Linked DNA regions of Homo sapiens: region 2 is linked to region 1. The links come from fine-mapping of genetic effects on gene expression. Tissue or cell type: whole blood. Region 1 holds a variant in brackets; the other region holds the start of a gene. All regions are shown on one strand. Distances are between the middles of the regions. Region 1 overlaps RPH3A (rabphilin 3A). Region 2 holds the start of OAS3 (2'-5'-oligoadenylate synthetase 3).

The links. PIP is the estimated chance that this variant, and not a neighbour inherited with it, causes the effect.
Region 2: OAS3 starts here. The variant in region 1 is the best candidate, but not a certain one, in a credible set for the expression of OAS3 in whole blood (TOPMed, PIP 0.87).

What each region holds. Positions count from the first base shown.
Region 1 is chr12:112,891,261-112,894,171 of GRCh38, reverse strand. The region is part of intron 19 of RPH3A (rabphilin 3A); the gene reads right to left. Among named protein-coding and RNA genes, the nearest start is that of OAS1, 14 kb to the left of the region's middle. The variant C/T (reference allele first, on the strand shown) is at 1,522.
Region 2 is chr12:112,936,830-112,939,740 of GRCh38, reverse strand. OAS3 (2'-5'-oligoadenylate synthetase 3) reads right to left here and starts at 1,267. Exons shown (of 16, transcript NM_006187.4): 1 at 1,034-1,267. The coding sequence starts at 1,210. RefSeq lists enhancers at 549-718, 1,142-1,311, 1,275-1,584, 1,479-1,648 and a silencer at 965-1,054.

The DNA.
Region 1 (2,911 bases):
CCACCTTAGGCTGCCCCCAATCCCTAGAGAGAGGCTGGGTGTATGCACAGAAAGGGGAAGATGCAAATCTGATTATTGTCACTCCACTTCTCAAAACTGTGTACTGGGTTCCTTTTAAACTCAGGGGAGAGTTCAAAATCCTTCATGTGGCCTTAAGACCGTGTGTGTTGGGTTTCTGCTCCATCCCAACCTAACCTTATGCCATCCTCCTCACCCCACTCCTTACTTCTCCTTTCCACCCAAGGGCCTTTGAGCAAACTGTTTCTTCTGCCTACAGGGCTCTTTTCCAGTGAGGCCCAGTGTCTGGCACATAGTAGGTACTCAATCAATATTTTCTGGGTGAGGCTGCGTATGGTGGCTCGTGCCTGTAATCTCTGCACTTTAGGAGGCCAAAGCGGGAGGATCACTTGAGCCCAGGAGTTCCAGACCGGCCTGGGCAACATAGCGAGAGCCTGTCTCTATAAAAAATAACAAAAATTATCTGGGCACAGTGATGTATGCCTTCAGTCCCAGGTACTCAGGAAGCTGAGGTGGAAGGATCTCTTGAGCCCCAGAGTTCGAGGCTGCAGTGAGCTATGATCACACCACTGCACTACAGCCTGGGCAATAGAGCGAGACCCTGTCTCTTAAAAAAGAGAGAGAGAACAAAACACAAACCAAACAAAACAAAATATTTCCTGGGTGAGTAAACACAATGGGCTAAACACTCCTAAGGGCTGGGACATTTGGATTCTGATTCAGGTTGTCACCAGCGGAGCAACTTTAAACATGAGCGTAACTTTACCGTGCCTCTGTTTCTTGACCTGTAAAGAGGGCGAACATTTCATTCTCATCTACAGAAGTGGTTTTGAGGATAATTTTTAAGAAGAGACAAAAATGAGGAATTAGAAGTTACCAAAGAGCTAAGCAAAAATAATGGGAAGTTCTGGCTTTTAAAAAATCTTTATTTGATCAGAAACTGCTTAGTGGTCTCCCATTTTTTCTCCCATAACTGCACCCAGCAGGTCAGCTGCTTCAGTAGTGACCACGGCAATTCTACTTCTTCTGGAAGGATTGGGTAGGTGGGGGAGGGGGTGGTAGAGAGAATTATTTAAGAAAACCAATCTGCACATGGCTGACCTCTAATGGAGTGCTGGACAGCACCCCTTGAGCTCATTTCCTCTCTTGGGTCATACGAGGAAATAAAATCAAATTACTCTTAGAAACCAAACTTGTCCCTGACCTGTGTGTTCTTTGTTAACTAAATCTTCATTCAAAGGAAATGTGAAAGACAGCCCACATGGATCTGTTCTTTGGCCATGGACTAAAGGGAAGTATTGCTTTCTGTTATCAGAGGCAGTGGAGGTGGGGGGAGTGTCTCCCAACTGGAGGGGATATTAGTAAATACTCTCTGCCATGAGTAAGGACAGTGATGGTGGTTATTTATAACCATAATGGCAGGTATTTATTAGCATTTACTGTGTACCAGACCCCTTGAAAATGTACCTCTCAGCCTGCATTCTCCAGTTGCAGGGGGTAAAA[C/T]TGATGAACAAGCTACTGGGCTCTGTATTCATGATGTTCTTGCTGAAGCCACGCTTCCCACAAGTGTTCTTAGCCAATAACTGACGCTAGCAGGGACACTAGGCAGCCCCATTTCTGGGAAATGCAGGACTCCTCTGATGGGTGACTGTGCTCAAGGATTCTCCATCACCTTGGATGAAATAGTGCAGCTTCCTTGGAGCTGCACTGTAGCCTAAGATTGTTTCTACCCAAACTTCCTTCCTTCTCTGCTCCACAGGGGTCATACCTGTAGCAAGGTCTGTGGTCTCTATGGGTCCCCTCTGGATTCCTCCTTATCTCCTCTACAGGCACACCTGTATCTTCTCTTGGTGTTTCCTTCTTGGAGGACCTGAACTAATATACAGTATTACAGTATTACTCTGTCCATTTTGCAGATGAGCACACTGAGGCCTAGAGATGTTAAGCTATGAGCCCCAGGTCACATAGCTAGAGCATACTGGAGACTCCATGCTCCATGGAGATCCACATCCACAGAAACATACATGTTGCTGCCCCAAGGCCAGCAGAATTCTACTGAGGTGCTAAACATTTCTGTACCAGGCTCGATTCTGTTTGCTTTCTTTGTGCTATCTCATTTGAGCCTTAAGCCCACCTTGGAGATAAGTGGAACTCTTGTCTCCATTTTACCAATGAAGAAACTGAATGAGAAGCTAAATAACTTGCTTAGAGTCCACAGCCAGCAGCTGGCAGAGATGAGAATAGGGCCTGATGTCTGACACAGCGGTGGCTATGAGATTGCACCTGGCAGACCTCCAGCTACAGGAAGCGTAACTGACCAAGGCCCTGGATGCAGTGCTTGGAAGTCCATGACATATTTGTGCCAAGGCCATGCTCCCAGCCAATGACTGGGCCTGGCAGGGATGCTAAGGTCGGCCCACTCCTATGAGATACAGGACATGTCTGATGGCCAGTTTTGGCTTGAGGACTCCCTGGTGGCCTTACTGAACTTGTATCTGGAATGCTTCCCTCCAACTTCTCTATCTAGTCCCCTCACTCAGGTCAGACTTGCATTGTAGTCTAACATCTCTCCCTTTCTCCCCTGACTCCCTGCAGACTTCCTGGAATGGGCATTTCCCCTGATAAACCCCTTGTCTGCTTAATCCTATTTTGGCATCTTCTTCTCAGAGGATCTGGACTAACACAGATAACAGAGTCCCTTTTATTCTCCATGATGAGATTGCTGGAACAGACCCCAGACTGAAGGCATGTTTTTTTTCTGAGCATTTCCAGAATGAATCTGGAAAATGCCAGATGGCCTCTTTGGTGGTGGAGGTCTGAGCGGTCCGAGGGGTGTGCGGCCAACTCCTGGGAGTACAAATGGGGCTACTATAACTAATTAGCTTAGTTGCAG
Region 2 (2,911 bases), 46 kb before region 1:
CCCTGAATCTGCGAGTGTCCTGGGATCACAGTGGCAGTGTGGCTGTATTTAAGTGACAAAAAGTGACCCGGAGCCTGGGCAACATGGTGAAATCCCGTCTCTACAAAAAATGCAAAAATTACCTGGGCATGGTGGCTCACACCTGTAATCCCAGCACTTTGAAAGGCCAAGGCAAGTGGATCACTTGAGCCCAGGAGTTCCAGGCCAGCCTGGGCAACACGGCAAAACTCTATCTCTACAAAAAATGCAAATAATTAGCCAGGCATGGTAGTGTGCACCTGTAGTGCCAGCTACTTGGGAGGCTGAGGTGTGAGAATAACTTGAGCCCAGGAGGCGGAGGTTGCTGTGAGCCAAGATCATGCTACTGCACTCCAGCCTGGGTGACAGAGCGAGACCCTGTCTCAAAAAAAAAAAAAAAAAAAAAAAAAAAAAAAGATGTGACTCAGAGTAGTAATTTAGCGTCTAGCCTCAGTTTCCCTATCCATAAAACAGGTACAATAATACCTGCCTCACTGAACGTGGGGATGAAATGAGGTAATACTCATTTAATGAGATAATTTTCATTGTTATTTGATAATGTCTCAATAAATTGGGCTACTCTGGCTGTTACGCGGAGTGTTATTACTTCTGTAACCTTAAGGTCTGGCATAGTGTGAGGCCCACAGTCTGTTTGAATGACTGGGAGAATGAGTGAATGAGTGAATGAATGGATAAGAAGCAGCCTCTGAGAGTAGAGATGCAGGAATCAGGCTACTTGGATTTGAATCCTGGCTGGGCCTCTTACAGGATCGGACACGTCACTGTACCTCTCTGTGCCTCATTTTCTCTATCTGTCAAGCGGGCTTAAGAGTACCTACCTGGCTCGTATGTTCGGGGGAGTTAGCACGGGGCTGGCACATTGGAAGTATTTGTTAAAGAAATGAATGAGGTGCACAAGCGGATAAAGCCACCCCCACCGTAAGCCTATGTGAGGCTTAAGCGTCCTCCCAGGACTCCCCTTTGGACACATAAAGACCCCGAGGTGGGACCTCACCTTGACAGTTTTCAGCACCCGCGGGGCAGCAGCACCGAGGCGGCCCCCGCGCTCCCTCAGGGCAGCGGCCAGGGCGCCCAGAGCGCGCCGCGCCTTCTCTACGAACTCCTTCCGCGGCTGCAGCCTTCTGGCCACGAACCTGTCCAGCGCAGCGGCCGGGGTGCTGTACAAGTCCATGGCCGCCCGGCGCAGGTGCAAGGGGAAGCAGGGCTCTGGCGCGGCCTTCGGATTTCTGGTTTCGTTTTCCCGCCCGGCTCTCCGAACCACGCCCAGCTGGCCAGGTCCTAGGTCCTCGGTCCCGCGCGTGGCGTGAAACGGGGAGGGGCGCTGCAGTTCCTGTCTTCCCCAAACTTGGGAAATTCCCTGCTTTCAGTTTCGTTTCTTTCTAGCAGCTCTTGGACCTGACACCCACTTCCTGGTCCCCTTCCCAGCTACGACTTCCTCTCCTTCATCTCCTTGCTTCCAGCCGTCCCTGCAACCACCAGCTCCAACGAACTAATCACAACCTAACAAAGTATACCCACAGAACATATGGGTACATACTGAGTAACGTACTCTGAGCATTTCAGAAACGTGCAGGTTTTACATGGAAAAAAAAGGTCAGGATTTAATAAACGGAGAAGTCCTACCTCGCTGTCTGACTGAGGGATGCGTTCTAAACACCACTACCACCACCAACGATAATAAAGCACACTTGGAGACTCTCACTGACTCCTCCCAACGACCATGGTGTAGGTGCTATTATCATCACCCATTTGACAGATGAGGAAGTCAAGGTACAGAGGAACTAGGTAACTGTCCAAGGTAACACAGCTGGAAAGTTGTCTGGCTGGATTCAAACCCAGCCCAAGCCCACAGAGCTGCCCTCTTCAGAAGCCAACTCTTCCTAAATAATTTATACGTGTAATGCAGTTCCAATAAAAATTCCATCTTTAAAAACTTCAAACACACGATCTAAAGTCTGTCTGCAAGAATTAAAAATTATTTTGGAGGAGAAGGAGGAAGGAAAGTCAGTCAGTTTAGGATGGTACCTTGCACAACAATACTACATATTAAAACATTGTAAAGCTACAATAGGGAAATCCTCTTGGAATGGGCACAAAGCTAAGCGGACTGTAAGCTATAAGCTGCAGAGTGGAGATTTGAATCCAGGACCATTGCGCTTCTATCTTCATGGCCTGTCTCCTTTTTCTGCTTATTTCCTGCTGCTTCTCCACCCGGGTTCCTAGAGACTGCACACCTGAGCTCTCTTCCAGGCCTGGTCCAAGCCATAGCCTATCTCCTCCTCCCCATCTTACTAAAAAACTCCCAGGTCCTCTCTCCTGTCTGCTCCGGGACCCAGCATTTACTCTGCCTCTGAGTACACTTCAGGTAATAGTCTTAACAAGTGCTTCCTGACATCTGCACGGTAACTGAAAGGAAATAGATAGGATCAGAGTGTGAATTTCAGAGGTCATGGTCAACTAGAGGGAGAGATGCTGGGTCTGTAATATGTACACCAGCTAATATTTTGAGTAGTGAATGCTGCATCACTTGGAATATTCAAGTATGGGCAGGTTTTGTAGGTCAGGTGTTGTGGTGGGGATTTAAGTCAAGGGATTGAGCAATGATTTTCATTCTCGCCCATTAATCACAGTCTTCTTCCTGAGTCACAGGCCACTTTAGAAACTTTCCATTCAAGATAGTGGATTGAACACATGCTCAAAATTCTATTAAAATAGCAGCAAAGATATATTAAAAGCATAATGGAAATCAACAGGGTTGGAAACTGAGAAAAAGTGGAGTCAAGGGGGCGGGACATTTGAGGCATTTTTAGAAGATGGAACGCAGAAGGGTCAATATTGGGTCATGATGGTGGACTGAACATATGCATAAGCC